Linked DNA regions of Homo sapiens: region 2 is linked to region 1. The links come from fine-mapping of genetic effects on gene expression. Tissue or cell type: tibial nerve. Region 1 holds a variant in brackets; the other region holds the start of a gene. All regions are shown on one strand. Distances are between the middles of the regions.

The links. PIP is the estimated chance that this variant, and not a neighbour inherited with it, causes the effect.
Region 2: it holds the start of INPP5A, and the variant in region 1 is fine-mapped to the expression of INPP5A in tibial nerve (GTEx, PIP above 0.99). The same link has a PIP of 0.9 or more in fibroblasts and nucleus accumbens.

Annotation. Positions count from the first base shown.
Region 1 is chr10:132,480,626-132,483,301 of GRCh38, reverse strand. No RefSeq gene overlaps it. Among named protein-coding and RNA genes, the nearest start is that of LINC02870, 37 kb to the right of the region's middle. RefSeq lists an enhancer at 2,331-2,676. The variant T/A (reference allele first, on the strand shown) is at 1,056.
Region 2 is chr10:132,536,629-132,539,304 of GRCh38, reverse strand. It overlaps INPP5A (inositol polyphosphate-5-phosphatase A), which reads right to left and starts at 1,518. Exons shown (of 16, transcript NM_005539.5): 1 at 1,134-1,518. The coding sequence starts at 1,208. It overlaps LOC107984282 (a long non-coding RNA gene), which reads left to right and starts at 2,382. Exons shown (of 4, transcript NR_158224.1): 1 at 2,382-2,579. RefSeq lists an enhancer at 568-617 and a silencer at 1,398-2,497.

The sequences.
Region 1 (2,676 bases):
TTCCAATCCTGGTTCTCTTCACTGCTGTTCCAGTGAATGACAAGGTGTGAGGCTGCCCTGCGTTAAACCTCGGCTGGATCTCTGCCGTGCCGCTGAGGGGAGAGTATTCCCACCTTGGCTCTGGATTTTTTTTTTTTTTTTGACGGAGTCTCACTCTGTCACCCAGGCTAGAGGGCAGTGGTGCAATCTCGGCTCACTGCAAGCTCCACCTCCCGTGTTCACGCCATTCTCCTGCCTCAGCCTCCTGAGTAGCTGGGATTACAGGCGCCCGCCACCACACCTGGCTAATTTTTTGTATTTTTAGTAGAGACGGGGTTTCACCGTGTTAGCCAAGATGGTCTCCATCTCCTGACCTCGTGATCCGCCCACCCCGGCCTCCCAAAGTGCTGGGATTACAGACGTGAGCCACCGTGCCCAGCCTGGGCTCTGGATTTTTAAAGGGGATGCACCGGTGTTTCCCCATTTTTGGTCTGCTGTAGGTTTTTGGTAAGTTTCCCATTTCTAAGTTTGAAAAGTCTCTTCCTTTTTTCCTGAGTGTGTTTTGAGTTGTGTTGAGTGATTTTCGGCATCCACTGGGATGAGCCTGTCTTCCCCTTTAATCCGTTCATGCGGTGAATGAAAGTTATCGATCTTCTCGGTCTAAATCACTCACATTCCTGGGATAATCCCAGCAAATCCCAACACAGTCATGAGTGTCATCACCTTTTAAAAATAGACGCCGTGAGTTCAGTGTGCTAATGATTTGTTTAGGGTTTGTACGTCTTTGTTTGGGAGTGAGATTGTACTAAAACATGATTTTTCTTGGACTATTCTTGTCTGGTTTGTTTTAAAGATTGTAATGGCTTCACAATGATTCAGGGAGTGCTCCCTCCTTTCTACTCTCAGGAAGAGTTTGTAAAAGACTGGAACGTTCTGTTCCTTGAAAGTTTGGTAGAACACATCTGTGCAACCCTGGGCAGGGGAAAATAAGAACCCTGTGAGTTCTTAGTCGGAACAGATCCCTCTTACAAAACAGAGATGAATAGAAGAAAAACAAGCAGAGGCTTATTAACATG[T/A]GTGTTTCACGTATGTGTGGGAGATGCCTAGGGCATGAGTCACTCTCAACGAGGCGGCTTTGAATTCCAGCTTGTAGAGCATCTTTAACAAAGAGCGATAGATTTTCAGAGAAGTTCTGGGCAAAAAAGAAAGACTTGGAGTCTCTGTAGGCAGGAACTTGAGGAAAAGCGAATAAATGTCAGATAAAGGCTCCTTCATAAAGCTTGTTGGTGCAGATTATTCTGGAACTATCTTCAGGTGCAGGTGATGAGGGTCTGAAGCTGTCTTCAGTGGTTAACCTTTGTTCTCCCTAGTAGAGGGGGGCAGGATTCCTTCGTCTTTGTAAGCCCGTGTCCTGTGTCGAGGGGGGACCGGGAGCTCTACCTCCGTTGCTCCTCGCAGAGGCCCTCAGCCCCACAGGCCTGCTTTTCAGGAGGCGCGTTCTGGTCTCCCACACCTGTCAACCTGAGTTTTCTTGCAGGAGATTTTAAATCAATGGTTAAATGTCTTTAATGGTTGTAGAATTATTAGGTCATCTCTTCCTTCTTGAATCAATTTTTTGTCATGATCTTCTGCGAATGTATTCATTTTCCACAATTTTCTGGGAATGTATCCATTTAAAATCTTACCTGTTTTGGAAAAGATTTCAAACGGACTGGTTCCTGATATGTTTATCTTTAAACTTCTGCTTGTGTTTGATGATTCTCCTTTTCATTCCTAATACCGACTCTGTTCTCTCTCTCTCTGTTTTTGCCAGTGGCGTCTGTCACCTTCATCTTTCTAATAATCAGCCAACATTTGTCTTTGATCCACCCGATTTGCCTTTTATTTTCTATTTCCTGAGTTTCTGCTCATATTTGTATCTTTGTCCTGCTTTTATTGCTTTAGCCTCTTGTTCTTTTTGTCACTTACGTTGAAGGCTTGGCTCATTAATTTCCATTGTTTCCTTCTTTTAAATCTGTCTAATTTCTGGAGTGAGTTAGTTGCACTTTGCAATATTCCATATGTACGTGGAGAGTTTCATGTACTCATACATAATAGGCAGTGCACCCACTGTAATCTGGTTCTAAGCATTTCTCATTTCTATCATGTGTTATTCTTTAACTCACGGCTTTTAGAAGTGTATATTTTATTTTCCAAATAAATGGTAATTTTGGAAGGTTCTACTTCTTTTTTTTTTTTTTTTTTTTTTGAGATGGAGTCTGGCTCTGTCGCCCAGACTGGAGTGCAGTGGCGTGATCTCGGCTCACTGCAAGCTCCGCCTCCCAGGTTCAAGCAATTCTCCTGCCTCAGCCTCCCGAGTAGCTGGGACTACAGGTGCCCGCCAGCACACCTGGCTAATTTTTTTTTTTTTTTGTAATTTTAGTAGAGACGGGGTTTCACCGTGTAAGCCAGGATGGTCTCGATCTCCTGACATTGTGATCCACCCACCTTGGCCTCCCAAAGTGCTGGGATTACAGGCGTGAGCCACCGCGCCCAGCCCCTGAAAGCTTCTTCTTATCTCAAATTATTAAGATCAGTTGTAAGATCTCATGTTGACTGTTAGCTCGTTGCATCCTGGTCAGGAAACATTGTTGCTACAGCATGAACTGACTGAAGTCAGCTCACTCACTTCCTGTGGGATGTGCAGCTACTTTTCCC
Region 2 (2,676 bases), 56 kb before region 1:
TAAGTGGCAGGGTTAAATGGGGGCACCCTACCCTCTGGCCCTGCAGGGACAGACAGACAGTGAGGCCGGCACCCAGGCATCCAGGAGCTGGGGCTGACAGCCAGAGTGGAGGGCCTAGGCTCAGAGGACAGGGGCCAGGGGTGGGAGTCAAGGGTTAGGGTTTGGGAATTCTGCAGGCTCAAGGCCCAGGCTTTAAGACCAGGATTCAGGATTCAGGATTCAGGGGCAGGAGCTTGTTGGAGGAAGGGGCCAAGGATGGGATCTAGGAACCAGAGTTAGGGGCAGGGTCCAGAATTGGGTTTGGGGCCTGATTCTGGAACCAGGGTTCCAGGTTCAGGGGTCAAGGACAAGTGTTCAGGGCCATAAGCTGGGGCCTGAGGTTGAAATTCAGGGTTCAGAGTCAGGCTAGATTGGCTTTAGAGGCAAAGGGCCACAGTATGAAGGCTGGGATTCTAGGGCTAGAATTCAGTGATTGGGGAACAGGGACAGGAGGTTGGGGCCACAGCCCTGTGTCAGAAGTTCCTGGGTTAGGGTTTGTGGTTATGTTTCAGGGTTTGGGGTCCAGGGCTCAGGGACCAGAGACAGACGTTTGAGAGCAGGTTCTGTAACCAGAGTTCTGCAGTCAGGATTTGTGGTTCCAGTGACCATGGACCTGGGGTTCAGGGCCAGGGTTGGGGATGGGCATTCCAGGGCCAGGGTTCTGAGGATTCGGAAATCAGGGCTGGGGCTGGGTTTGGTGCGCACAGACCCGGTTTCTGGGGTTTGGGTTCCAGGAACTGTTAACAGGGGTTCTGACAGGGTTTTAATATTGGAGTTTCGAGGTCAGGATTTGCAGACAGGAGTTCAGAGGCAGGGTCCCAGGGTCAACGGTCAGCTGCTGGAGTCTGGAGGATGGGGTTCGGGGATTCAGGGCCCAGGTCTTCAGGTCTCGGGCTTGGGGATCAAGACAGGGGTCTGGGCTCCCAGACTTGGGAATCAGGACAGGAGTCTGGGGTCCCGGGTACAGGGATCAGAGTCTGGGGCCTCTGGGTCTGGAGGTTCACGGTCCAGGGTCCAAGGCTTGCAGTTCGGGACCCCGGGGTCAGGGTCGGGGGTTCCGGGCTTGGGGCCTGCCGCCGGCACGGGGGACTTACGTCGTCGAAGAGCGAGCCCACGTTGGCCGTGACCAGCAGCACCGCGGTGCCCGGGGCGGCCGCCTTCCCCGCCATGGTGCCCGGGCGGCGCGGGCGCTGGGCTGGGCGGCGGCGGCGGCGGCCGCTTCCTCCGGGACCGGCCGGCCGGGGTCTTCGCGGGGCCGCGGGGCGTCAGCTGCGCCGGGGGGCGGCCCCGGGGCGCATCGCGGGCTCGGCGGGTCGGCCGGGCCTGGCCGGGGCTCCGGCCTCGCGCTCGCTCGCTCGCTCGCTGCTCCGCGGCCCCGCGCCCGTCGCTCGCCGCCGCGCCTCACAGCGGCCCGCGCGCAGCCATTAGATCCGCTGGGAAAGTTCCCGCAGCCGCCGCCGACTCAGGCTGAGGGCAAGTCCCGCCCCGCGGAGCCGAGCCCGGGGCGGGGCCTGGGCGGGGCGGAGCCTGACTCGGGGTGGGGCCTGTGCGGGGTGGAGCCGGGCCTGGGGCGGAGCCTTGCTGGGGGCGGAGCCTTGAGGTGCGGAGCCTGAGTTGGGCCTAGATCTGAACAGAGTGGGGCGGGGCCTGCGGGGGGCGTGGCTTGTGCGGGACTTGGTGTCCTTGTGGAGGCGGGGCCTGCCCCGGGGCGGGGCCTCCTTTCGGGGCGGGGCCTACGCGGGGCGCTCTTGCGACCGGCGGCCTAGTACTGGTCGCTCCCGGAGGGCGCTCCTGTCAGTCAGGCCCGCAAGAACGCCGCGCCCCCGCCCCGCCCCCCGCGCCGCGGCTGCGCACAGACTCCGCCCTTCGCACTTCTATGACGTCACGGCCCTGCTCCGGCGGCGCCTCTTAAAGGGGCCCTGGGTTCCGGGCGCCGGCGGCGGGTGCGCTCTCTTGCGGCTCTGAGGGGATGTTCCAGCCCCCGCGCGGCCGCAGTCGTCCAGCCGCGTGCCGGGCGTGCGGGGGAGGGGAGCCCACCGGGGCGGCGGCAGTCGCGCCTGCAGGGGCCGGGCCACGCGCGCCCGGCTCTCCGCGCAGACGGAGCGTGGACCGTGCAGCTTCCCGGCGCGTCCACCCGGCTCCCTGGCCGCGACCTCACTCACGAGGAGCGGCTGCGGCCCAGAGAAGACGGAGGGGAGGCGGCGTGAGGCCAGGCGCATCCTGACGTCGCGGAGGGCTCCGGCCCGGGCCAGGCTGGGTCTCAGCGCGGGGCGTGCAGGGAACCCTCGCAGGGACGAAGGGGGCTCCAGGGGAGGGGGCTGGTGCGGGCCCAGGAGCGCAGAGCACGGAGGAGCAGCCGGCTCGGCGCGGGCCCCGGGGCAGCGATGCTGATCCTGGCCGCCGGAGGGGCCAGAGCATGGGCTGGACCCTGGGTCTGAGGCCGCGGGGACACAGCCGCCGTGAACCGGGACATGCCTGTAGATGGAGGAGGAGAACCACATTTGTCATCTTAAAGCTTCCAGTAGCTACATTTTTTAAAGGTAACAAGTAATAGCCAAAGTTAACAATACGTTTTACTTAACCCAATAGATAGATACATCATTCAACATGTAACCAGAATTTAACAACCTCAGTGAG